4 linked regions of the Homo sapiens genome follow. The protein of the gene in region 3 interacts with the protein of the main gene of each other region in a pairwise test. Each region holds a gene or a part of one and is shown on either strand. Other genes may lie near its edges. The genes, in order: FOXM1, PNRC2, BANP and FOXR1.

The links.
Region 1: the proteins of BANP (region 3) and FOXM1 interact in binary tests that used the Homo sapiens proteins (3 or more experiments, as listed by UniProt).
Region 2: the proteins of BANP (region 3) and PNRC2 interact in binary tests that used the Homo sapiens proteins (3 or more experiments, as listed by UniProt).
Region 4: the proteins of BANP (region 3) and FOXR1 interact in binary tests that used the Homo sapiens proteins (3 or more experiments, as listed by UniProt).

What each region holds. Positions count from the first base shown.
Region 1 is NC_000012.12:2,874,175-2,881,143, reverse strand, and holds the start of FOXM1 (forkhead box protein M1), read left to right. Parts: upstream 1-3,969; 5' UTR 3,970-4,224; intron 4,225-4,628; exon of another isoform or gene 4,629-4,879; intron 4,880-6,618; 5' UTR 6,619-6,665; coding exon 6,666-6,969. UniProt on the Homo sapiens protein: Transcription factor regulating the expression of cell cycle genes essential for DNA replication and mitosis. Plays a role in the control of cell proliferation. Also plays a role in DNA break repair, participating in the DNA damage checkpoint response.
Region 2 is NC_000001.11:23,955,012-23,962,847, reverse strand, and holds the start of PNRC2 (proline-rich nuclear receptor coactivator 2), read right to left. Parts: upstream 3,021-7,836; 5' UTR 2,850-3,020; intron 1,920-2,849; 5' UTR 1,714-1,919; intron 1,409-1,713; 5' UTR 1,391-1,408; coding exon 971-1,390; 3' UTR 1-970. UniProt on the Homo sapiens protein: Involved in nonsense-mediated mRNA decay (NMD) by acting as a bridge between the mRNA decapping complex and the NMD machinery. May act by targeting the NMD machinery to the P-body and recruiting the decapping machinery to aberrant mRNAs.
Region 3 is NC_000016.10:88,073,404-88,077,816, forward strand, and holds the end of BANP (protein BANP), read left to right. Parts: intron 1-3,186; coding exon 3,187-3,258; 3' UTR 3,259-3,913; downstream 3,914-4,413. UniProt on the Homo sapiens protein: Controls V(D)J recombination during T-cell development by repressing T-cell receptor (TCR) beta enhancer function. Binds to scaffold/matrix attachment region beta (S/MARbeta), an ATC-rich DNA sequence located upstream of the TCR beta enhancer.
Region 4 is NC_000011.10:118,974,742-118,981,771, forward strand, and holds the end of FOXR1 (forkhead box protein R1), read left to right. Parts: intron 1-4,040; coding exon 4,041-4,115; intron 4,116-4,215; coding exon 4,216-4,463; intron 4,464-4,700; coding exon 4,701-4,927; intron 4,928-5,748; coding exon 5,749-5,987; coding exon of another isoform or gene 5,988-6,031; exon of another isoform or gene 6,032-6,115; intron 6,116-6,466; coding exon 6,467-6,495; 3' UTR 6,496-6,546; downstream 6,547-7,030. UniProt on the Homo sapiens protein: Transcription factor which acts as both an activator and a repressor.

The sequences.
Region 1 (6,969 bases), on a different chromosome or scaffold from region 3:
GCAACAGAGCGAGATTCAGTCTAGAAAACAAACAAACAAAAAGCTACCACAGAAATCCAGTGAAAAGATAACAGTGGTAGCAATGGCTATAGTTTTGAAATTCATGACTTGCTGAAAGTCATCAGCTTCAAATGGGTACGTTGCTCAGCAATCCTGTTTCCTTGATCAACTCATTCTCCACAAAGATTATCTTAAAACTTCTCCAAGCTAGGTGCAGTAGCTCACGCCTGTAATCCCAGAACTTTAGGAGGCTGAGATGGGAGGACTGCTTGAGGCCAGGAGTTCAAGACCAGCCTGGGCAACATAGAGAGACCTCGTCTCTACTACAAATTTAAAAGAATAATTAGCTTGGCATGTTGGCATGTACCTGTAGTCCCAGCTACTTGGGAGGCTGAGGTGGGAGGATCACTTGAGCCTGGGAATTTGAAGATATGGTGAGCTATGATCGTGCCACTGCACTCTAGCCTAGGTGACAGACAGACCCTATCTCAAAATAAATAAATAAAGTGGAAATTTTGTTTGTTTGTTTTGAGACAAAGTCTCACTCTGTTGCCCAGGCTGGAGTGCAGTAGCGTGATCTCGGCTCACTGCAACCTCCTCCTAGGTCCAAGCGATTCTCCTGCCTCACTCTCCCAAGTAGCTGGGATTACAGGCGCCCTCACCACGCCCAGCTAATTATAGTATTTTTTAGTAGAGATGGGGTTTCACCACGTTGGCCAGACTGGTCTTGAACTCCTGACCTCAGGTGATCTGCCCACCTCGGCCTCCCAAAGTGCTGGGATTACAGGCGTGAGCCACCACGCCCAGCCTGAACATTTTTATTTTAATTTTTAAAATTATTTTTAGAGATGGGGTCCTGTTCTGTTGCCCAGGCTGGAGTACAGTGACACGATCATAGCTCACTGCAGCCTCAAACTCTTGGGCTCGAGAGATCCTCTTGCCTCAGCCTCCCGAATAGCTGGGAATACAGACAAGCACCACCACACCTGGTTAGTTTCTTATTTTATTTTTTGTAGAGATGAGGTCTTGCTTGAACTCCTGGGCTCAAGTGATTCTCCTCCCTCAGCCTCCTGAAGTGCTAGGATTACATGTGAATCACCACACCCTGCCCACTTTCTTAGAACTTCAGAACACCCCTTTTCTCTTAACAAATGACTTTACTTCCTACTTGACAAAGAATACAGAAGACATCAAAGGAAATACTCTCATTTTCCAGAAAGCAAATATACAAACCTATGCGTATCAACATCTATCTTCTTTCTGCTCTAATTAGAGGTCAGTTCATTCTGCTGTCTAAGTCCTTCCCCTCTGGTTGTGCTTTGGAGCTGTTCTCACTCTATATACTTTTCTTAGGCAAACTCATCTGCCTGTATTTCAGTATCCACCTAGAAGTAGATGACTTCAATATTTATATATTTTAGAATTCCTTAAGTTTGGGACCCAAATATCCCATTACCTACCTGAACAGCAACTAGATATTTCAAACGCACCTCAAATTCAACATGTGTAAGGCTGAGCGCAGTGGCTCACGCCTGTAATCCCAGCACTTTCAGAGGCCGGGGTGGGCAGATCGCTTGAGCTCATGAGTTTGAGACCAGCCTGGGCAACACAGTGAAACCCAAATTCTACAAAAAATACAAAAAATCAGGTGGGCACGGCTGCGTGCACCTGTAGTCCCAGCTACTCAGGAGGCTGAGGTGGGCAGATCACTTGAGCCCAGGAGGTGGAGGCTGCAGTGAGCCGAGATCGTGCCACTGAACTCCAGCCTGAGTGACAGAGCCAGAACCTTGTTTCAAAAAAAGAAAAGAAAAAAAAATTCAACAAGTTTAAAACTGAACTTGGCCGCGCACAGTGGCTCATGCCTGTAATGCCAACACTGTGAAAGGTGAAGGTGGGAGGATCACTTGAACCGAATAGTTCAAGATCAATCTGGGCAACAGAGTGAGACCCTGTCTCTACAAAAGATACAAAAATTAGATGGGTGTAGTGGCATGTGCCTGTAGGGGGTCCCAGCCATTCAGGAGGCTGAGGTGGGAGGATCACCTGAGCCCAGGAGGTTGAGGTTGTAGTGAGCCAAGGTCATGCCACTGGACTTCAGCCTGGGGGACAGAGCAAGACCCTGTCTCTAAAAAATAAAAAGATAAATAAAAATAAATATATAATTAAAAAAAAAACTCATTCTGAGCATTGCTTTGTAGTAAAAAAACAAAAACTGAATTCACGATCATTCCCCTGACAACCCCCCGCCCGTCCCTTGGCCAAAGTGATTATCTTCCAGGGCCCTTGGTCAGGGAATAGTGTCATTATTCCTTCAGTTATGCAGCTGAAAATCTTGACACTTCTACCTCCCATCCAACCCACCATCAAGCCCTGTCAACTTTACCTCTTAAACATGTTTTCTTAATGCCCCTTTTTTACTCTCTCTGTCTCCTTCTTTCTCTTCCTCTCTCTCTCTCCCTGCCACCCTTTTTCAAGCTCCAGCAGTTCTTGCCTGGAGTATTGCAACATCCAACTGTTCTGCCCTAATCCACTCTAGCAATCCCCGCTATAGAGGGACCTTTTAAAATGCAAATCTGACCTGGATTCACTTCTGCTTAAAGCTTATGACTGGTTTCCTTTAATTCTTGGATAAGCACAAAACTTCTCGGTATGGCTAAGGCTCTGCTTCCTCCGGCTCCAGCTTCAACTCACACCACACTCCATTCAGGTCGATTAGCTCAAACCCCTCAGATATTTCTCAGCCTTTGTACTCACTGTGCTTCCTCCTGCCATCCAGCCTTTGCACGCCTGATTCCCTCTGCTTAGAGGAGTTCCCTCCTTTCTTTGTAAAAGGCATCAGATCTCACACCAAGCTCTCATTACAAAAGCCTTTCCTGTCCTACCTCTCAAGATCTCGTTATTGTAAATACTCAAAGTATCATTAACCTCTAATGTTTCAATTTACAGCAATAATTCAACATTTGTTTGTTTTGGAGACGGTGTCTCCCTCTGTCGCCCAGGCTGGAGTGCAGTGGTGTGATCATGGCTTACCATAGCCTCCACCTCTCGGCCTCAGGTGATCCTTCCACCTCAGCCTCCAGAGTAGCTGGGACTACAGGCACGCACCACCACGCCCGGCTAATTTTTAGTAGAGAAGCGGTTTCGCTATGTTGCCAGGCTGGTCTCGAACTCGTGACCTCAAGTGATCCACCCGCCTCGGCCTCCTAAAGTGCTGGGATTACAGGCGTGAGCCACTATGCCCAGCCCACATTTGTTTATTTGATTAAAATGTCTGTGCCCCTCTTCCAGGATTGGGCTGTGAGCCCAGGGGAAGGAAAGAACCTTGTCTGCCATTGTATCTTCAGGGCCTAGCGGTGCCTGGCGCACAGCAGTTGCTCAACTAGACTGGTTGACTAAGTCAATAAATAAAGCACTACGGTCTATTATATCCGAAGGCTTGGCTTCGGGAGGGGCAAAAGACAGGTTTCGCGCTGAGGTAGGGTTCATGGTGCCGACATTTTTTTTCAAGATGGAAGAAAGCGGAGATAATACGCAGCCCTCAAAGGAACTTAGTCTAATCGGGGGGAGCAGACGATCGTTCACTGTGGGAAAATGGGGTACGATTTCCCCCAGTGAGGAAATCAACTAAAGCCGAGCTTTGAAAAGGGGAGCAGAGGAGCCTGAGGGGAAGCGGGGGCGTGTCGCCTGGCGTGACCAGCGCGGCAGGAAAAGCGGGCCCAGGGACCCGGGCCTGTCACGCCGCTTCCGCGCGTCCCCAAACTCTCCCTCGGCTCGCCCACCCACGCGGCGGGGACCCCTCCGGCCCCTCCCCGGCCCCACGGCCACTTCTTCCCCCACAAGCCGGCCTGCGGTCCGCCTTACCAGCCCGGGCCGGACGGGGCCGCAGCTCCTGGCAGACCGCACAGCCTTCGAGCCCGGAATGCCGAGACAAGGCCGGCGCCGATTGGCGACGTTCCGTCACGTGACCTTAACGCTCCGCCGGCGCCAATTTCAAACAGCGGAACAAACTGAAAGCTCCGGTGCCAGACCCCACCCCCGGCCCCGGCCCGGGACCCCCTCCCCTCCCGGGATCCCCCGGGGTTCCCACCCCGCCCGCACCGCCGGGGACCCGGCCGGTCCGGCGCGAGCCCCCGTCCGGGGCCCTGGCTCGGCCCCCAGGTTGGAGGAGCCCGGAGCCCGCCTTCGGAGCTACGGCCTAACGGCGGCGGCGACTGCAGTCTGGAGGTGAGCGGGATGCAGCAATGGAGTCCCAGGCCTGGCCTGGGCACAGGCGGGGAGCAAGGCCTCCGGGCGCGGAGGTCAGGGCGTCTAGCAGCAGGGCACGGGCCACGAGTGGAGATTTGGGTCACACGGGAAGAATCTGAGCCAGGGTGCAAGTTTTTTCTGCGTCCACCTCCTGGCCGTGGCCTTCTCACTGCTTAAAGCGCCCCTTGGCCTTCCCTGGAAGTCTGACCTCCGCACCCTGCCCGCGGCCTCGGGAGGGCTGGGGTGGCCTACCTTCTTAGGCCGACTGTGGCTGAGATGAAGACTGAGATTGTACTACATTGAGTCAAAGACCAACCTGCATACACACTCCCCTGCTCCCAGGCTGTCTCACCACTAGGCAACACCGCCTCCATCTTACTTACCCTTTTGCAGGGCCCTTTTCCTGGTTCTTGAGAATGTAGCAAGATTTCCCCGCTCAGGATGGGGATGGGTCGGAGGAGCCACTCTGGAAGTTTCCCGGGCAAGAAAGTGTTGGCAATAATAATAACGGGCTGGTCAGGAAGTAGAAGAGAAAATTAAGACTTAGATATCCTGTGGAAAAAGAGGAATAATATCTACTGATTGATGCGGGGAGAGAGGGAAGCCTGGAAAGATCGGAGGTGAAAGTAAAACTGAGATTTGAAGGTAGAGGTGTGGAGGGCCTGTGAACTCTATGCAGATGACAAATGTCAAAAAAGTGCAGTTGCTTTTCAGGGAGAGAATAAGTGTCCTAAAAAAGAGACAGCCAATTCCTCTGTCTTCCAAAGTTCCGTGAAATAGAATTACACAATTTTGCTTAATGGTAGAATATTCCATGTATCTATTAAAATCAACAAAAGGCCGGGCGCAGTGGCTCACGCCTGTAATCCCAGCACTTTGGGAGGCCGAGGCGGGTGGATCACCTGAGGAGTTCAAGACCAGCCTGGCAAACATGGTGAAACCCTGTTTCTACTAAAAAAAAAAAAAAAAAATTAGCTGGGCATGGTGGTGCATGCCTGTAATTGCAGCTACTCGGGAGGCTGAGGCAGGAGAATCGCTTGAACCCGGGAGGCCGAGGTTGCAGTGAGCTGAGATTGCGCCATTGCACTCCAGCCTGGGTGACAAGAGCGAAGCTCCGTCTCAAAAAAAAAAAAAAAATTAAAAAAAATCAACAAAAGACTTAAAAAAAAAAGACTACACTGTTAGCATTTCAGAACCACCTTAGTGTAATGATGATAGCTCATTGTGGTACTAAGAAGACAGGGGTTATAGTCTTATTTCTGGAAAAGAAATTAATAAAGTGGCATGCTTAGTTAAAATATATATAACCACATGCAAGTACTAAAATGCCACTGTATAAATACAATACAAATTGTAAAAGAAAACATGCTTTTTAAATTAGAGCAAGTATAATAGCCTGTGAAATAAATGTCACCCTCTAGAGTTGTTCAGTGCACAAGCTGCACAACTTTACATGGGCCTTCAGTAGAGGTTTCCATTTTATGTGAGGTTTTGTAAACTGGGAGATGATTTTTCCAGTAGTGTGGCAATAGTACAATCTGCCTTTCTTCCCTGATTCTGTGTGCACTGGTCCTATTTACAAAGTAATATAAAAATCAAAAGGCTTGGCCAGACGCGGTGGCTCACGCCTGTAATCCCAGCACTTTGGGAGGCCGAGGCGGGCAGATGACCTGAGGTCAGGAGTTTGAGACCAGCCTGAGCAACATGGTGAAACCCTGTCTCTACTAAAAATACAAAAACTAGCCGGGCGTGGTGGTGGGCACCTGTAATCCCAGCTACTCAGGAGGCTGAGACGTGGGACTCGCTTAAACCCAGGAGGCAGAGGTTGCAGTGAACTGAGATCGTGCCACTGCACTCCAGCCTGGGTGACAAAGTGAGACTCTGTCTCAAAAAAAAAAAAAAAAAAAAAATTAAAATCCTTTGTCTTGAATGGATTATGGGATCAGAGTTTCATCAGGACTCCTAATTACCATATGCTTTCCTATTCTAGCATCTTCCATTTCTGTCCATACAGTCATTGCAAGTGATCTATTTATATTATAGTAGGCAATTATAGAGATTTCCACATATTTGTAGCTATCCCATCCATTTCTGTAGCCAAATATTCTGAAGCTTCAAGGAGATCTTTGTCTTATCTCCAACCCAGTCCCATTTTTGCCCTTTGAATTGCTTCTGTCTGCTGTAATTTTAGCCTTCTTTTGTCAGTAAAGCTTATCTCCTTATTATCTGAGGTCTTTACAAAAGTCCATGGAATGTTTACCTGGGCCTTTAGGCTCATGTTCCTGGTCATATAAAGAGGAGCACCTTTCTCTAAAAGGACCTCTTCTCAGCCTAAACAATCTCTAACATCTTGCCACTATTTGCATTTTCCAGGGTCCACACTTGTGATTCTCAATGGAGAGTGAAAACGCAGATTCATAATGAAAACTAGCCCCCGTCGGCCACTGATTCTCAAAAGACGGAGGCTGCCCCTTCCTGTTCAAAATGCCCCAAGTGAAACATCAGAGGAGGAACCTAAGAGATCCCCTGCCCAACAGGAGTCTAATCAAGCAGAGGCCTCCAAGGAAGTGGCAGAGTCCAACTCTTGCAAGTTTCCAGCTGGGATCAAGATTATTAACCACCCCACCATGCCCAACACGCAAGTAGTGGCCATCCCCAACAATGCTAATATTCACAGCATCATCACAGCACTGACTGCCAAGGGAAAAGAGAGTGGCAGTAGTG
Region 2 (7,836 bases), on a different chromosome or scaffold from region 3:
AAGTATAACATACATACACTGGCACTTTAGCACAAGGGCAAACTTTAAAAACAAGTTATTTTGGACCTTTAAAATTAGGCCATATTATAAAAAACAGTCCACGGTCTTACATTCAGCAAATTCATACTAAAATACTCCATTTTTGTAAGATAAAGGCCAAGAAAACTTTACATATGCTACAAGTTTATTACAGATATTTACATGGCTCTTTCTCCCCTAGGTACTTAAAATTTTCACATTATCCAACTCCCCAAAGCAAGCTTTGCAGGAATGATGAGGCCAGAGCACTATTAGAATAGCTTGTGCAGTGCTGTAATACAAAAATGTATTTTGAAAGCTATTGAGTGACCATTAAATACTGTTTCTATAAAAAATGGTTTTGGTGTATTTGTTGACAGACACTTAATCCACTACATTTAATAAACAGGGCCATTGGGGTGTACTATGTCTCATTCTAATGAGCTCCAAATGCCCTTTCCACCCACTGTACAATTCACTAAAATGCAATTATTACGAAAAATTCACATTTTCTTTCAGCAGTGCATCAGGTTAGCATATTACTGGTTTGGGTGTTTCTAATATACTAAACCTTCAGATGTTTACCTAATTCTGAATCCTTGTGTTAGCTAGAAGCTTATAATCCGATTCACCAACTTTCAACAATCTACTGGTCCATGAATGATAAATTACTGTCTTCCCCTAACAATAGAAAAAGCTGATTCCTTTACCACTCCCCAAATCTAAACTTGGTTTCCACTTAAAAGTTACTCAGTTGAGAACACTTAATATCAAGTACAATCATTAGTTTAAGTTGCACTGATACTACCATTATATCACAGTGCACACAACACGAGATGGTCTATTTTTTTTACATTAATTAGTTCTACACAAATAGATTCCCTAGCGAATTTGTTTCAGACCAATTGACAACTATCCGTGAACATAACTAAATTTAAACATTTGTCTTATTTTATACCTGTACTTTAAGTAAGGTTTTAAGTTGAAATGTCATTATTTCCTTATCTGAAGGATTAAAGGAAACAGGGACCCAGTGGCTTGGTGGTTTGGGAAGAACACTTGGTGATGGCGGCTCACTAAATTTGGCACCAGCATAGTTCTGATTAGCTTGAGATTTAAAAAGTAACCTGGGACCTGATAAGCTAGAATTCCAACTTTGATTATTTGGAAAATTTTTGTTCTTCCCCCCATTTTGCATGGCCTGCCAGGCAGCTGCTGATGAGTTATAACCATGTCCTCTTTCTTTTTTCTTATGAACAATCTTCATCTGGGAATTCTGTTCCTTGGTCTTCTGTCTGTTAAGCTGTTGTTGGTTCTTACTAACATTTCTAGATTGAGGGGCTGGAATGTTATACCTCTCTCCACCACCCATCTTCAGCTTCTTTGTCACCTACAAGTGAATGGAAACAAATATTGAGTAAAATTCCATTAAGAAAAGTTCAAAATCTTTAAGAAGCTTCTATGGCTCCAACTTATAACTCCAGATATTTTGGACAAGACTCAATAACAGGCTATTCAGCTGCTTTAAACTCAAAAAAGCAAGCCGTTCAGACTTCAATATATGCACAACCTTTATTGTTATACCTTCCCTAAGAAAAATGAGCTTACCCACAAATCTACATAATCTATTTTAAAATAAAAACAATTGGTTTAGGATGGTTCCATCATAAAATGTTTGCCCATTATGATGATTACCTTTCAGTCTGCTTTTCAGATTGCAGGATCTCCACTACCTGTCCTCTTCCTTGCTGCCAAGCCCAAGATAACAAGTGTTGCTTTCTGACAGATCCCTTCCTTTGTCTCAATACAGAAGTTTTCATGGGCCGATCTGCTGAGTTCAGCCTAGGAGCTGAGGCCAACATCTGAGTCTCCTCAGCACACAAGTTTGAGAGAAGTCCTAGCTAGAAAAGTAAAGATTACTTCATTATTTCAAAAACACGTTGAGAAAGTGATCATTTAGATTTACTACGAAAATCGTTGACTGTAAAGAAGGCTACTTCCTGAACTAAAAGGTAGAAAATTTCTCGTAAGATGGCTTTCTTTGACCTTATAACCACGACCATTTAAAAAAACTCTTCACCCTTGAGATCCAGTCACTCCTGGGGAATTTTTGTAAGTGTCTCCAAGTCCCGCAATAAGTTTTATCTTTATCTTTTTCCTGGGAAAGACCTTCAGATTCTCTCGCGTATAAAATCAAGGAAGTGTTAAATGTTGAGTCATATCAAAAAATTGGCTTCAGGCGGATTTTCTAAAGAGACCGTGTTTTTAAACTCCCACCAGAATTTTCCAATCTTTCCACACATGTCACATCCATTTTCAGTCTCTTGGAACATGTAGACATCACGCAGTGTTTCCTTTGGTTATGAACGCTCTCGCCTCCTCCCCGTCTTAAAATAAGTTCTCACAAGCCCTAACAGTCTAAGCCCATCTTAAATATATAAAAATGTCTCCCTAGAGGGAACAGCTTAACTTTCAAGGTTTGGTTTTAATTTGATGTTCCAAGAAAATAAGTTACCAAATAGTTAAGCCCCCTCCTTTCAAAGGGGTAAGAGAGCTTTCCAAACAGATAAACAACCCTAAATAAATTGCCATTTCCGGACTGTGAGTAATTCCCAACTCGAACCCGGAAAACGCCTCCTCCGACGCCACAAGGGCTTGGCTTCCCAGTGGCCCCATCTCTCCGGAGCCGCAGGGGTCGCGGCGCTGCGACCGCCCGTGACCGCCCGCGCCCGCCCGGGTTACCCGGATCTCGCCTCCGCTCGCCTCCTTCCTCCAACAATGGGGAGCGCGGCCACCAACATGGCCGCGCCCTTAGCGCAGCCGCTACTTACTGACTTCAAGCTCGGAACTAACGCGGCAGCGGCTCCCTCTCGACGTCGAAGCCTCCCTCCCTTTCCAGGGAGAGACGAGGCACGGACCGACAAAGCCCACGAACACCGATGAGCGAGCTGCCGGCCACCCCAGCTTCTACAACCCGACCTTCTCCTTCTGCCTCTACCGACAAAATGGAGTCGGCAGCGACTGCAGAAGCAGGGCCGGGAGGCTCCGCGGCCAATCAAAACACGACAGCGCGGGCCTGGCCAATGAGAAGCGGGCCGCCGCCTGTTGCTGGGGCTGGCCGGGGGCGAAGGCGCGGAGGTGGGGCTGCAGAGGGTTTGAAATCTGCCCGGGGAGGAGGAGCATGCCGGGAGTAACTGCTCGGTCCACCGGTGTCTTAGTCCTTTCTCCGGCGGCCTCTCCGCGCCCCTGGCCCGCCGAGGCCCCGGCCGCTAGCTCTCGGCTCTTCCTACCGCTCGGCTCTCGTGCGCGCGGGCTCGCCGCCCTTGGGACTGCCCTGGGGGAAAAGACTGACCGGCGGGGGACGTTTGGTTCTCGAATTAGGGCCACTGAGTCCTGTAGCCTGTATTGACAGATGGAAGATACTCCGGAAAGCCTCTTGCCAGGGCGCAGCCCCCTCCCGCCTCGGGCCTCGGCTTCTGGGTCGCCTCTCTCCCACACCCACAACTCCGCGTCCGAAGCCGGCGCCTCCCCGCGGTTCCCTCCAGTGCCCCCACCCTCCAGCCCCGCAATTACTCAAAAGTTGCCTCCCTGTGAAGGCGGTTCAGACACACGCGGGCAAGTCAGTCACTTCCTGCTTGGTGGCCCCATTGGTCCTTAAGTTCAATTAGAGCCCTTTACGCGCCGTGTTACCGTTTCCTGTGGCTGCAGCTCTCCCCACCCACACACCCTCGAGGGCCACAACCGGTTAGGTTTTGTTTCTCTGAGCACAGCGCCTTCGCGCGTTGTAAGTGCACAGTAAGTTTGCTGAAAGAATGAGGACTGCTCTCCTCCCCTTTCTGCCCCACTTGTAAGTGAAAAAGGGGAAGAAAGAGAATATTGTTCAGTTGATTATGCCAGCCAGATGCAGGTAAGGGGAAAATGGCAATTTCTTTGGAGTAAATGTATAAGTAACCCAATGTGAATCTTTTAAAAGAGCACTAATTTCAATGAGCGTGAATAATTCTGGGCCAAACGGTACAAAATCAGTCTCATTCACAGTTTGTTCGTGTATACACATATATACCCAAGTTTACGTTACAGAATTTATATTTACCAACTTTTTATAAATCTCATGTAATTCGTTATTTTTGAGACGGAGTCTCCTTCTGTCGCCCAGGCTGGAGTGCAGTGGCACAATCTCGGCTCACTGCAACCTCCGCCTCCTGGGCTCAAGCGATTCTCCTGCCTCAGCCTCCTGAGTAGTTGGGATTACAGGCGCCTGCCACCACACCCTCCTAATTTTTGTATTTTTAGTAGAGACAGGATTTCATCATGTTGGCCAGGCTGGTCTCAAACTCCTAACCTCACGTGATCCGCCCGTCTCAGCCACTCAAAGTGCTGGGATTACAGGCGTGAGCCACCACACCCGGCCTGTATTTCGTTTTTTAATCTTCAATTTTTTGCCACCGTTATCCCCCACTTCCCAATCCAACCCAAATTCCTATATTCTAGCCATTGGATCTTAAGAAAAGTTACTGCATCTTACGGGATGCAGTTTGTTAATCTAATTTGATAAAAGAGGTATTTTTGAGCATAGGGACTTTCTGATGCTAATCATATTCAAATAAGAAGTATGTGGTAAACCAACAGGTGTCTTAGTGAAAGTGTAATCTGTTTTCCAAACATTCAAGAAGTTTGCTTAGACGTCTAGCCAGATAATAGCCAGCTGTATTTAATGAATTTTTAATGGTGTCACTTTAAAAAACAAAAAACAAACAAAAAAACACTTCCGTGGCTCCAAATTGTGATACGGAATAAAATCTAAACTCTAAACGTTTAGAAAATTATTCAAAGCCATTGCAGTCTAGAGTTAGTCTTTTCATGGCAGGGCATGGCTCACACCTGTAATCTCAGCAATTTGGGAGGCCGAGGCAGGAGGATCACTTGAGCGCGGGAGTTTGAGACCAGCCTGGGCAACATGGCAAAACCCCATCTCTACAAATAACAATTAGCTGGGCATGGTGGCACACGCCTGTAGTCCCAGCTACCTGAGAGACTAAGGTGGGAGAATCACCCGAGCCCAGGAAGTAGAGGCTGCAGTGAGCTGCGATCACAACACTGCACTCCTGGGTGAGAGTAAGACACTGTCTCAAAAAAAAAAAAAAAAAATTCATCTCTTCAGCCACTCTGAATTTTATCTGCATAAACGCACACATAACATTGGAAATGTATAAACCCACACAGAGTATCCTTACTCTGCCCCCTACCCTGTGCTAAATTTTTTTTTCTTACATCATTTCATTTAATCCTCACAATAATGTTGTGAGGTAGGAGCTGTTTTCATCCGCACTGTACAGATGAAGGCTCAGACGGTTTCGAGTTGAAAGCCAGGTACTAGGATTCAAGAGGCCAGGCTGCAGGTTGCCTGCAGCATCTGTGCTCTCCAGCACCTAAAAGGTTTTTTGCTCAGAGCAGACACTGACTGTTGACTGGGCTGCCGGGGCTGTTCGGGCAACAAGAAGCCTCCATCCTACCATCTGGCAGAACCAGTTTCTTTGCCAGAAGGTCAGAGTCGAGATGCCCTTGGGGAAAGCACTGTTAAAGCTTTTACTGCGTCCCAGACTCCCAGCACCCTCTCAGGCTAGCTCCAGCCTCATCATTCATTAGTATTTACCAAGTGCCCGCAACAGCTCAGAACTAGAGAGGAGAAGTTAAAATAATACCTTTTTTGGGACATCTGATACAGCCTCTGCCAGAACCATATGGTCTTTAAACTCAGCTCCACCAGCACAATCCTATTAGCAGTTCTCAATTCAAATAGGAAAATGTTGATGCCGACAAACAGCTCTCAGGATACAGCTCACCTAAACTGGAAGCCAAATGCATAATAAATACATGGATGTTTAATACAAAATATTTAGCAAAGATTTATCTGGTGCCTACTTTGTGCCAGGCACTATGCCACGCTCTGGGGATACAGCAGTGAAGGAGGCTCCATCCTGGCCCTAAAGGAACCCAAAAGCTGTTTCCTTTACAATTTACCAGAGAGGGAAACTAGTGTCTGGGAAGATTTATTCCCTCCCTTCTTCCCCTGAGAGTCAAGGACAGGCAAGGCCAAAATCAGCCTGCTAACCTCACTCAGGAGGTGCAGGTAACAAACATTGTTACTGGACCCTGCAAATAAAGTAGAAAAGGAGGGGGACTCTCACAACTTGCTGAAATTTTTTCACTGGAGGATCTGTTTTGAGCTATGTATCAGTGGCAACCAAAATCAATGAAATCATTAGGAAAACATTATCTACCTAATCTGTAAGTAGAGGTGGAGCAAAAAGCAAGTGTTTCTGGGCCGGGCACAGTGGCTCACGCCTGTAGTCCCAACACTTTGGGAGGCCGAGGTGGGCAGATCACGTGAGGTCAGGAGTTCGAGACCAGCCTGGCTAACTTGGTGAAACACTGTTTCTACTAAAAATACAAAAAATTAGCTGGACGTGTGGCGCATGCCTGTAATCCCAGCTACTTGGGAGGCTGAGGCAGGAGAATCGCTTGACCCCGGGAGGCAGAGGTTGCAGTGAGCCGAGATCGCGCCATTGCACTCCAGTTTGGGCAACAACAGCAGAACTCTGTCTCAAAAAAAAAAAAAAGAAAGTGTTTCTGAAAGCCCAGCTTTGGGGGAGAGACAGGTTGTAGGCTGAGGCATACAACTGCACCAGTGCCGGGGTAGTTGGAGAAATCACCCAGGTTTGCCATGGCTTTGGAATAAGTATATAGTAGAATCGACTGGCCTTCAGGCTGAGTCTCAGTTTCTTCATCTGTAGAATGGCAATCCTCCCTGTCTTGTAGAGCTCATGGTAGGAGCCAATGAAATAATAAATGTAAAAGCACTTTTATGATGTAGATTTAGAATACACCTGTAATTCCAACACTTTGGGAGGCAGAGGCGGGAGGATCACTTGAGCCCAGGAGTTCAGGACCAGCCTGGGCAACATGGTGAAACCCCATCTCTACAAAAATTACAGAAATTAGCTGGGAGTGGGAGGTGGTGTGCCCCTGTGGTCCCAGCTACTTGAGAGGCGGAAGTGGGAGAATTCCTTGAGCCCAGGATGTCGAGACTGCAGTGAGCCATGATCACACCACTATACTCCAGCCTGGGCAACAGAGCAAGACCCTGTCTCAAAAATAAACAGAACATGCTAAAAACGTTAGGTACTTTAATATTATCCCCCAACTCCACCCCCGCCCTAGCGAGTCCATTTCAAAACAAAAGCTGGTTTGGTTCTTTTTCTTCTTTAAGCTCATATATGAAATCAGATGGTCAACTTTGAATGTTTTTGCAGGTCTGTCCGCTCAGGGCTTAATTCAGTTTGAAGAAGCAAGCAAATTCTTAGAACCTGCCAGAAGAGTGAAATGGAACACCTGCCCACTGTTTCGATGTGCCTCAGAGCTCTGATCTTGTTGCCAAACTGATTGCAAAACACACACCCCTCCCCACACCATGAATTCATTTCCTGGGGAAGCATCTGCTGCCTCCCTGCTTGCTCAGACATTCCTGAGAAGTGTCAAATCTGTTCTTAACCATTGCAGCCATTTTGGTCTAATTACTAAACGGGGCACAGGAAGTCAATGATGAACTCCCACGCCTCCTGTCGACGCTGATCCAGGGGTCCAACCTTCAAGACCCTTAAAGGATTCTGATGCCCAGACCCCATCCCAGAATCAGAATCTTTGAGCACGGGGCTGCGGCTATTCCAATCCAGTTGATTCCAATGTCTCACTCCAGTTGAGAATCACTGCTTTCAGTTTTGCTAAGGGCAATCCCCTGGTGTGGAGGCATGTTTATGA
Region 3 (4,413 bases):
CCTGTACTCTGCCCATGGGCGCGGTGGCCCCCGCAGAGGCGCGCCCTGTACTCTGCGTGGTGTTTGGTTCCACATTGTCGCCGACCTCACTGGAGATGCGCTGGAAGCACGGTGAGGGCCATGGGCGCAGAACGCACAGGCAGTGAGGAGCGGGTGGGTGGGATGGTGAAGGCAAACTCGTTCGGCAGCGCTTATTTTATGTGGTGTGAACCTTGGCCTGTCCGTGAAGAACAGTCAGGCGTGGCTGCCTCAGCCCCTGCCGAGGACGCGTGGCAGCCCCCCGTGCCGTTCCAGATAGGAGCGCTGCAGGAGGGCAGTGAGGTCCGCGCCCAGGAAACTAGATGTGGGGGCCATGCCTGAGGGCGTCCTGCTGCATTATAAGTTTCTGGTCATTTTCCGATTTCAGAATTGAACAAACCTGTGTCCCATGGTTGGTGTTTACACCCCTAGCTTCCTGTAAGCTCTCTCTGTTACCATGCCCTCCTGGCAGGCCCCAGGTGAATGATTTAATTAGGATCCATCGTAACAGCCAAGGAAGACGGCGTGCTTAAGGGGCCGCTTTCCCTGCAGAAAACCCCAGCGTGGTTGGACTTGGTGGTGAGCGGGTTTGCCCATCTGAGGCCAGACAACTGCAGGGTGCGTTAGCTTGTCACCAAGGGCCCAGCTCTCTGCCTTACCATCTCAGCTTGTCCTCAGGCTAGCTCTGCCCCACTGGGAAGTGACCGAAGGCCTTCATGGTGACTCTGCAGGCGTGACTGCACCCAACAGAGACAGGTTTCTGGTTGAGCCTCCTTATCCACATGAAGCCCCCACCCCAGTCATGCTTGGGAATGGTCTTGCATCTTGCATGGGTCAGAGCAGGGTCACGCGCTTGAGCTCGTTCTAGGAAAACCTGTGGCTCAGCTGTGAGGGCCTGGCTCTGAGAAGATGGGTTCCCTTAGGAGGGAAGGCAGGTAGCTGGCCTGTGGGGGTGGCCAATCCTCAAAGTGGAGAGTGGGGCCTGTTCCCTGGAGCAGTGGGTTGGGAGGGTAGGGGGGTGCCATTTGCAGGGGAAGACACTTGTCTTAATGCGCGGTGGCCTGTGGGTGTCACAGGCTCCCTGAACCATCTGTAGCAGAGGCAGCACCTCCACCAGCCTCTGCCCAGAACACAGGTCTGGCCACTGTCCTTGGAGGGCAAGTGAGTCCCAGCCAGCCCAGACCTGTGCCCCACTGTCCCCACCCACCCAAGTCCCCAGCTGCCTTTCCAGCTGTCTGGGGGAAGGGGCTTTGCATCCCAGGCGGTGGCCCCCCTACCCCAACCTCCCATGGCCTTCAGCCACCCACCCCAGGGCCCTGGTGTGGCTCCTCCATTCCAGCTGAGGTTCACCCCTTCCCGTTAGGCCTTCCCAGCTGTGGCCGGGCTCGCAGGAGACAGTCCTCATACTGACCCCTCATCCTACCCTGGAAGGCCCCTCCTCCATCCAGGGAACAGTATATCGAGTGTCATTTGACATTTGTCTTGAAAAAGCACAACCTGGACCAGGTGCAGTGTTTCATGCCTGTAATCCCAGTGCTTTGTGAGGCCGAGGCAGGGGCGTTGCTTGAGCCCAGGACTTCAAGACCAGCCTGGGCAACGTAGCGAGACCCCCATCTCTACAAAACGTAAAAAAATTAGCTGGGGCCGGGCACGGTAGCTCACGCCTGTAATCCCAGCATTTTGGGAGGCTGAGGCAGGCCAATCACCTGAGGTCAGGAGTTCGAGACCAGCCTGCTCAACCTGGTGAAACCCCATCTCTACTAAAAATACAAAAATTAGCCAGGCATGGTGGCAGGTGCCTGTAATCCCAGCTGCTCGGGAGGCTGAGGCAGGAGAACTGCTTGAACCCGGGAGGCGGAGGTTGCAATGAGTCGAGATTGCGCCACTGTGCTCCAGCCTAGGTGACAGAGTGAGACTCCGTCTCAAAAAAATTTAGCCGGGCGTGGTGGTGTGCACTGGTGGTCCCAGCTACTTGGGAGGCTGAGGTGGGAGGATCACTTGGGCCCATGAGGTCGAGGCGGCCGTGAGGTGTGCTTGCACTACTGCACTCCAACCTGGGCAACAGAGCAAGACCCTATCTCTAAAAAATAAAATGAAGCAGGACCTTAACTAGAGTAGAAGTTGCCAGGCCTCTTCCTCCCGTGGGCTCGGCCGTGGGCTCGTGGCTTCTCCTGGCTCTTCCTTTGTGGTTCCTGTGCCTTCCAGCTGAAGCTTCTGGGAGTGTGCACGGCAGCCCTAGAGTGGGCTCCTCCACCTGGGGCGTGTTCCGTGTGGCTGAGCTGGAGGATGAGTGACTTATTCCAAGACTGTATGTTTTTCCTTTACTTTTTTTTTTTTTTTTTTGAGATGGAGTCTGGCTCTGTTGCCCAGGCTGGAGTGCATTGGTGCAATCTCGACTCACTGCAACCTCTGCCTCTTGGGTTCAAGTGATTCTCCTACCTCAGCTTCCCTAGCAGCTGGGACTACAGGTGTGCACCGCCACACCGGCTAATTTTTGTATTTATTGTAGAGACGAGGTTTCACCATTTTGGCCAGCCTAGGCTTGAACTCCTGACCTCAAGTGATTCACCTGCCTCAGCCTCCCAAAGCCCTGGGATTATAGGCATGAGCCACTGCGCCCGACCTCCTTTAACTCATTTTAAGATAAAGCTGTGATTTCGTACTTGAAGTCCTTTTAATATCTGTAACTCGTTGACCAGAACCTGTATCTTTGAGGGAAGAATCATAGCTGCCCCGAAAATCCTTTGTTGAAACATTGGGACAGTGTTTATAGGAAGGCAAAATGGTACCTGAAGCTTCAGGGAAATATCTTCGGGAGGGCCAGGATGTTCTCCACTTCCAGGTTACTTCCCAGTGAGGCAGCGGGTTGGGGGTGGAGAGGCAGGAGCAGCTGCTGCGCCGGCCCCGGTGACGGAGTCCATGTCGGGGGCGGGCCGGGGCCTGGGTGTGCCGGAGCCTCCCTGGGCGCCAGGGTCGTGGGCGCGTCGTTCCGCTGGGAGCCAGGCGTTGTGTACCAAGTCGGGTGAGCCTTGGGGCCGTCAGGGCTCCTTCGCGCTCCTGTGTGCGTGTTTCTCATTCTGCCTTAAAGTCACTGGCTGTTCATGACACCCCCTGGCCATGCAGTGCTGGGTATTTTTCTAGAAAGTCCCTCCTTTCTCCCTTTTGCAGACGGCCGAAGCCCTGCAGCCCACGCTACAGCCGGAGATGCAGCTCGAGCACGGGGCCATCCAGATTCAGTGAGCGGTGCCCATGGCACCAGGAGCCCCTCGCCGGCTCCGCCTACGGCCCGGCCCCCACGCGCCCTGCTCTCACGGCCTCGGCACAGGCAGCGGCTGCACGTGTTCTGCTGAAGTGCGTCTGAAGGCCGCTGCCTCCGCGGGGAACAGCATCCTATCAACTGAAAGAGCAGCCGCCGCCGCCCCCAGCCGGAGACCCCTTTCGTTTGAGTCCTGCTGTTGGTGTCGGAGCACGAGGGGAGGCACGGTGCGGAGAGCGTCGCATATGCGCGGGAAATCAAGAACTATGATATTTTTCTGTTTAAACAGCTTTTTTTAATTTGCTATGGTGTTTATAACAAAAAAGAAAATTTGAAAAAAAAAATCCCAGGGGAGTAGCAGGAGCCCTTTGCTGTGTGCTCTGTCCAGTGTCATGAGACGGGAGCCCTTTGCTGTGTGCTCTGTCCAGTGTCATGAGACGGGAGCCCTTTGCTGTGTGCTCTGTCCAGTGTCATGAGACGGGAGCCCTTTGCTGTGTGCTCTGTCCAGTGTCATGAGGCAGGTGTTTGCAAAGCCAGCTCTCGGTTCCGATGGGGTATTGCTGACCTACTTTTCTAGGGGAAATGCTCTTAAACACTGTAATTATGCATTTCTAATGAAATAAAATGTATTTATGACCACAGCAGCCTTACGCTTTTCCTCCTGCGAGACGGTTCGCCAGAGAGTGCCTGTCCCTGGGGGGTTGGGCTCGCTGGCCTTCAGGCCACGCTGCTGCCCTCTCCACTGTGCAGACAGTAGGTGTGGGCACCCCGGGACAGTCAGTTCTGTTTCCGTGTTGTAGGCACTGCCGAGGGGAAACCTGGTTTAGGACACAGCTGTGGAACTTCTTGTTCTCATAAACCACAGAGTTCTGCCAGCTCCAGAAGGCACAGTCCTGGGGTCCTTAGAGAAAGTTGCAGCCACAGGGGCAGGCCCTACTATTTACAGATTTTTTTAAGGCAGAGATAATATCTGCAAATAGAAGTGCCAGAGGCAGTTGAATCCCTGGTGACCAGCCGGGCCTGGACTGCTTCACCTACACCGTTGTGGCAGTTGCGTTAGGGGCTTGGGAAGGGCCTACGTGAAGCCGTGTTCGCTGACTTAGAGCGGGGCCTCTCTGGGCTTTCTCTGGGAGGAGTTC
Region 4 (7,030 bases), on a different chromosome or scaffold from region 3:
TGATGGTAGATTGGGCCAGGGTAGTAGCAGGGAGAACCAGCTGGCTATGCTGATGGATTGGATATGGCGTATAAGACAGACAATTGAGTATGAGCCTTCAAAGTGTTTTGACCTAGTGGAAGGATAGAGTTGCCTTGTACTGAGTGGGAGACAGGTTTAGGAAGGAAGATCAGGAATTCTGTTCTGGATATGCTGAGCTGGAGATCCTTAGACATCCAAGTAGAAGCATTGAGTCTGCAGTTGGATACATGAGCCTGGAGTTCTGGAGAGAAGTGGGGACTGCAGATGTAAATTTTGGGTCTTTTGGTATATGGGTGGAACTTAAGGAGTAAGAATAGAGGAGGAACAAGAATGAGCCCTGGGGGCAGTCCATTGTAAAGAGATTGGAGAGAAGAGAGATAACTAGCAAAAAAGACTATTGAGAATCAAAACTAGGGCGTCTGTGGTATCCTGGAAACCAAGTGGAAAAAGCCTTTCAAGGAGGGAGGGGTTGGATGAGTGGAATGTAAGTGATGATTGGACTTAACAAAGCAGAGGTCCCTGGTTAGTGGTTTTAGTAAGTGGTAGAACAAAAAACCTGACTGAAGGGGGTTTAAGAGTAGAAGGAGGGGAAGTAGAGGCAATGTGTTATGCCTCAACAGGAAATAAGATGGGATAATCTTTTTCTTTTTCTTTCTTCTTTTTTTTTTTTTTAGAGACAGGGTCTCTATCTGGTGCCCAGGCTGGACTGCAGTGGCACCAGCACAGCTCACTGCAGTCTTGAGCAGCCTTGAGCAGCCTTGAGCAGCCTTGAACTCCTCGGCTCAAGTGATCCTCCTGCCTCAGCTTTCCAAAGCAGGCTGAGATTACAAGCATGAGCCACTGCACCTGGTCCCTAAAATGGGAGAATTAACAGCATGTTTGCATGCTGATGAGAATGACCCAACAAAGACAAAAAATTAGTGACACAGGAAAGAGAGGGGAAGATTTGTGGAACAACATCCTTGAAAAAGCATGGGGGATCTGTGCCAAAGAGAGACACAGACATACAAAGGTGCTATCCTTGGGTCGCAATGAGATCACCAGTCCATTGATCCTATCACCTTTTCACTGTTTCAATCACTTGATATGTCCACCCTTATTTAACTAACTTGAATCCCATGGTCAGATATTACGCAGGTTCCCTGGATCATCTGTGGCTTTGGAGCACTTTGTTGGCCAAACCACAACCCTGACTAAATCCACCTCTGCCAAACGAGTGCGCCAAAACCATAATTCAGTGGACTGGTGACCTCAGTGGGATCATAGTTGGGGTTGAGGGAGTTAGCCAGAAAGACACGAGGTGGTGCGTTTTTATGTGGTGCATAAATGAGGTTACGGAGAGGTTGCAGTTGTTGGTTTAGGTTATGCCTGAGGGAGTGTCCACAGTAGAGTAGAAGTCAAACTCGCTGGAGAAGAGTTCAATAAATAGCAAAGATCATGTTTTTGTTTTTGAAGCAAGGTCTGGCTTTGTTGCCCAAGCTGGAGTGCAATAGCGTAAGCTTGGCTCACTGCAACCTCCCTTTTCCCGCTCAAGCCATCCTCCCACTTCAGCCTCCTGAGTAGCTGGGACTACAGGCTCACGCCACCACACTCGGCTAGATTATTATCTTTGTATTTTTTATAGAGATGGGGTTTCACCATGTTGCCCAGGCTGATTTCAAACTCCTGGGCCCAAGCAATCCGCCTGCCTAAGCCTCTTAAAGTGCTGGGATTACAGGCATGAGCCGCTGCACCTGGCCAGCAGCCAAGATTTAAGGCAGGAGTAGTGTTGGAGAGTGACAGCTAAACCAGGAGGTCAGTAGATGGTAGTAACAATGGAGATTGATTAGTATATAAGTTCCTGTATTAACTTGAATATATACATCCAGGAGCAGACAGTAAGGTCGAGTAAATTGTGGTCCTGCCTGATTGCTCTTAACAAGGGCTGCTCCAGTTGATACACAGAACTGCAGTAAAATAAGAGATTCTGTCTCTTTGCATGTTTCTCAACACTTGGTATTATCTTTATAATTCCAGTCAATTTGATTATCTCATTATCTTACAGTGTTTTTCGTATTATTAATAATGCTGATCATCTCGTTAGCCATTCAGTTATCCCCTCCTTGTGAATGCTGATTCATATCATTTGTCCATTTCTAAGTTTGTGTTGACCTTTTACATATTGATTTGTAGGAGCTCTCTATGTATCAGAGAACTGAGAAATTTGGATTGAAGTTTTGCTATTTTGTTTGTTTGTCTATTTGTTTTTTGCTTATGGTGATTTTTACTATGTTAGAACTTTTTTTTGAGACAGAGTCTTGCTGTGTCACCTAGGCTGGAGTGTAGTGGCACGATCTCAGCTCACTGCAACTTCTGCCTCCCAGGTTCAAGTGATTCTCCTGCCTCAGCCTCCCAAGTAGCTGGGACTACAGGTACACACCACCAAGCCCGGCTAATTTTTTGTACTTTTAGTAGAGATGGGGTTTCACCTTGTTGGCCAGGCTGGTCTCAAACTCCTGACCTCAAGTGATCCACCTGCCTCGGCCTCCCAAAGTGCTGGGATTACAGGTGTGGGCCACCGCACCTGGCCAAACTTTAATTTTTGTGCTATAATATGTGCATAAAACTTACAGATTCATTTTGAGGGTAACTGGCATCTTAATAGTATGTATTATAAGTCTTTGTTCAAGTATTTTAAGTTCTTTATTTAAGAGCTGAGATGGGAAGATTGCTTGAGTTGGGAGGTGGAGATTGCAGTGAGCCGGTGTCACACCACTGCACTCCAGCATGGGCAACCAAGCAAGACCCTGTCTCCAAAAAAACCCCAATTTTTCTATCTTTTGCTACTTTTTCCTTTTTTGAATACTATGTTGAATATTAGCAACATAATAGGCATCCTCTCTAATTACTGAGCTCTCCGATAAGTATATCATTTCTCAAACAAAAGCCTAGATTCATCTGTAATATAATGACACTCATAGGGACAGTGAGGGGGCAAAAATAGTTTTTGTCCTGAACAACCATTAATGGTGGTGCCACTTGCTAAGACAAAGAATACAGGAAGGCCAGGCATGGTAGCTCACGCCCGTAATCCCAACACTTTGGGAGCCCGAAGCAGGAGGATTGCTTGAACCCAGGGGTTCGAGACCAGCCCAGGCAACATAGACCCTCATCTATACAAAAAATACAAAAATTGGGCTGGGCGCGGTGGCTCAAGCCTGTAATCCCAGCACTTTGGGAGGGTGAGGCAGGCAGATCATGAGTCAGGAGTTCGACACCAGCCTGGCCAATATGGTGAAACCACGTCTCTACTAAAAAATACAAAAATTAGCCGGGTGTGGTGGCGTGCGCTTGTAGTCCCAGCTTCTTGGGAGGCTGAGGCAGGAGAATCACTTGAACCTGGGAGGCAGAGGTTGCAGTGAGCCAAGATCGCGCCACTACACTCCAGCCTGGGCGACAGAGCGAGACTCCATCTGAAAAAAAAAAAATACAAAAATTAGTGGGGTGCAGTGGCATGTACCTGTAGTTCCAGCTACCTGGGAGACTGAGGTGGGAGAATCTCTTGAGCACACCACTGCACTCCAGCCTGTGCAACAGAGCAAGACCCTGTCTCAAAAAAAATACAAGAATACAGGAGGAAGAGCAAGAAGATGGAATTCAGTTTTAGAAGTGCGTTTGAAGTGCCTGTGGGCTACCCAAGTAAAGACATCCAGTAGGTAGTTCTCCTTAAGGGCTAGCACAGAATGCTAGGCTAGAGGTGAAGATTTGAGAGCTCTACATTTTTTTATAGATGTTAACTGAAGCCACGGACATGCATGAGATCATTCAGGGATAGTATACGTAGAGTGAGAAGAAAAGAATGCAGAGGGGAATGAGAAGGTCAGAGAGGTAAAGGGAAAACCCGTAGAAGTAGAATGTGATGTTAACTCCCAAGGCAGGGCCCACAACCTTCTCCCAGAGAAGCCTTAAGGCCTAGGATCCTAGGGTCACAAAGGGATATTCTAGGATGTTTTGACTCTCTCTGTCTTTCTTTTTGCCAGTTGCCAGGTATAAACTCCGAATTGTTAAGCCACCAAAATTACCCCTAGAGAAAAAACCCAACCCTGATAAGGATGGTACGTATTGAGTTCTCTGACCTGTTTCTGTGGCCTGGGCTGGAGACCAGGGGCACCCAAAGCCAGTGGGCTGTGGCACACAATCTTTTGTTCTGCACAGGTCCAGATTATGAGCCCAACCTCTGGATGTGGGTAAATCCCAACATTGTGTATCCCCCTGGAAAGCTGGAGGTCTCAGGACGTAGGAAGAGGGAGGACCTGACAAGCACACTCCCCTCCTCTCAGCCACCCCAGAAGGAGGAAGATGCCAGCTGCTCAGAGGCCGCAGGGGTGGAATCACTGTCCCAGTCCTCCAGCAAGCGGTCTCCCCCTCGGAAGCGGTTTGCCTTTTCCCCCAGCACCTGGGAGGTATGCATTTTTGGGGATGGGAGTGGGACTTGGGCAGTAGGCGAGGGGCATGGGGAAGAGCCATTACAGTTCTGCTCTCTTAGCCATAGCAAAAGGTGAATGGGTTCAGAAATTACCTACATGCTTGGGTTGGGGAGAAGCCCAAATGGTGGCCTTAGACCACCCCCCCTTCCTGCCACTGCACCCTGGAGTAGAGGCTGAGGAGTCAGGACCAGTTCCTACTCTGTGCTCCTCTAGCTCACAGAAGAGGAGGAGGCTGAGGACCAGGAAGACAGCTCCTCTATGGCTCTCCCATCCCCTCACAAAAGGGCCCCCCTCCAGAGTCGGAGGCTTCGGCAAGCCAGCAGCCAGGCGGGGAGGCTCTGGTCCCGGCCCCCTCTCAATTACTTCCACCTAATTGCCCTGGCATTAAGAAACAGTTCCCCCTGTGGCCTCAACGTGCAACAGATCTACAGTTTCACTCGGTATGTGCCGGGGGCCCTGCGAGGAGGGGGAAGTGGGGGCCAGGGCCCCGGGCTGATGCCTTCCAATCCATCCCAGGCCCTGGGTTGCTGACCTGGTTTCCCTATCTGGGTCTGAGAGGACAAGTATGTTCCCAGTTCCCTTTTCCCAGGTGCATTTGTGCCCACATTGTGCCCACATTTTATGGCTTTAGTTTTTTTTTTCTTTTTAACAAGTTTTCAGTGTTCTTTGGGTATAGTTCTCCTTTAAAACATACATTCACTTGGGTCAGGTAACAGTTTCCCCACCATCCTCTGAAGATCAGCCAGTCTAAAGTCAGGTTTCCCCAACGGTTCCCACCTGCTTCTGCTAGGACTGGACTGCCTGGCACAGCTCCCTGCACCCCCAGGGGTGCAGAGAACCCAGTTGAGAAGGATTTTCCATTTAGCTCAGATAGTCCTGCTCACAGGAGGGTGAGGAAGGGAGTTTCTTGGGCCCTTTCCCAGTGTTAGGAGAAGTGCCTAATGTCTCAGGACAGGAATTTTCAAGTGGTGTCCGTCCTCAACCAAGATTCCTCTTACAGGAGCTGCTTGGCCTGATTCTGCTTTGTTCATGCTGTGGTCCAAGCCCTGGGCCCTCAGAGGGAGGGAGGGTTCAGGTGAGCCACGCACCACGTGGATGCTTTGCCACGTGCTCAGTTAGCAAAGAGCAACTCCAGGCCAACTTGCTACTATCCCCCTGGAGAGAAGGGCTAAAGCCCCTGGCCCCTGGGTAGAACATGCCCCAGAGAAGGGCATTCCCCAGACATAACATGCCTTTCCTTACCTCTCCTCCCTGTCCATAGAAAGCACTTCCCCTTTTTCCGGACGGCCCCGGAAGGCTGGAAGAATACTGTCCGTCACAATCTCTGTTTTCGAGACAGCTTTGAGAAAGTGCCTGTCAGCATGCAGGGCGGGGCCAGCACACGGCCTCGATCTTGCCTCTGGAAGTTGACCGAGGAGGGACACCGCCGCTTTGCGGAGGAGGCCCGCGCCTTGGCTTCCACTCGGCTAGAAAGTATCCAACAGTGCATGAGCCAGCCAGGTGTGAAGACTTGTTGTGCGTGGGCCCAAGGGGAAGAGACCTGAGGATCCTGACCCAAGGCCAAGTGTGGAAGCCTGGGTCACACCGTGGGGGTGGGGGAATGCATCTTCTATAGGAAACAGGGAGATTAACAGTGATCTGAGACCCTCAGGTGATGCCTGCCTGAGGTGAGACCTCCCCCACCAGTGTGGGGCGTGATGTGCCAGGAATCCATGGGCAAACAACTAAGGGGCAACTGGCCTTACCAAGACCAGCAGTCTAGGCAATAGTGAGCACACAACATGAGAAGCACAGTTAATAGAGGTTATGTACAAAGAGTACTTCTACTTTCCCTGGAGCAGTGCAGGGAGGCTTCAGAGAAGAGGCAGCATTTGAGCCTTGAGTGAAAGAAGCAGATGACCTGCTATGAGAGAGCATCCCAGGCCTAGGAAACAGCAATTGTGAAGTATAAACTCCTGAACTCTCTCCTTTTCTTACAGATGTGATGCCCTTCCTCTTTGATCTTTAACCCCAAGAAGCAACAGCCAGCTAATGCTTTATTAAAATTACCCTCACTAGCCTTCTGTGTGTGTCTGTGGAGGTGGGGTCTCTAAGGATGGGGTTAAGGGTGGAGGTGGAGATCAACTCCAAGGTTGGAGATGGAATGCCTTCAGCTTACAGATGCTCCTGAGGCAATGGGGCAGGTGCCTGCCGTGCAGCAAAGGGAGTCCGTAATTTTCTTTCCTCAAAGGAGGAAAATGCACAGCCTTCTAAAGCATCTTGGAGCAATTTCCATTTTTCTGGATTATGAAGATAATCTTGGCTGGATGCAGTGGCTCACACCTGTAATCCAGCACTTTGGGAGGCTGAGGCAGGAGGATCCCTTGAGCACAGGAGGTCAAGGCTGCAGTCGGCCATGATCACACCACTGCACTTTAGCCTGGGCAACAGCAAGACTCCATCTGTAAAAATTATTCTGGGAGATGCCCGTTTGTAGCAGCCAATTCTGTAAGCACCACACATTCATTCAATTGATACTCCTTAAGTGGCTACTGTGTACCAAG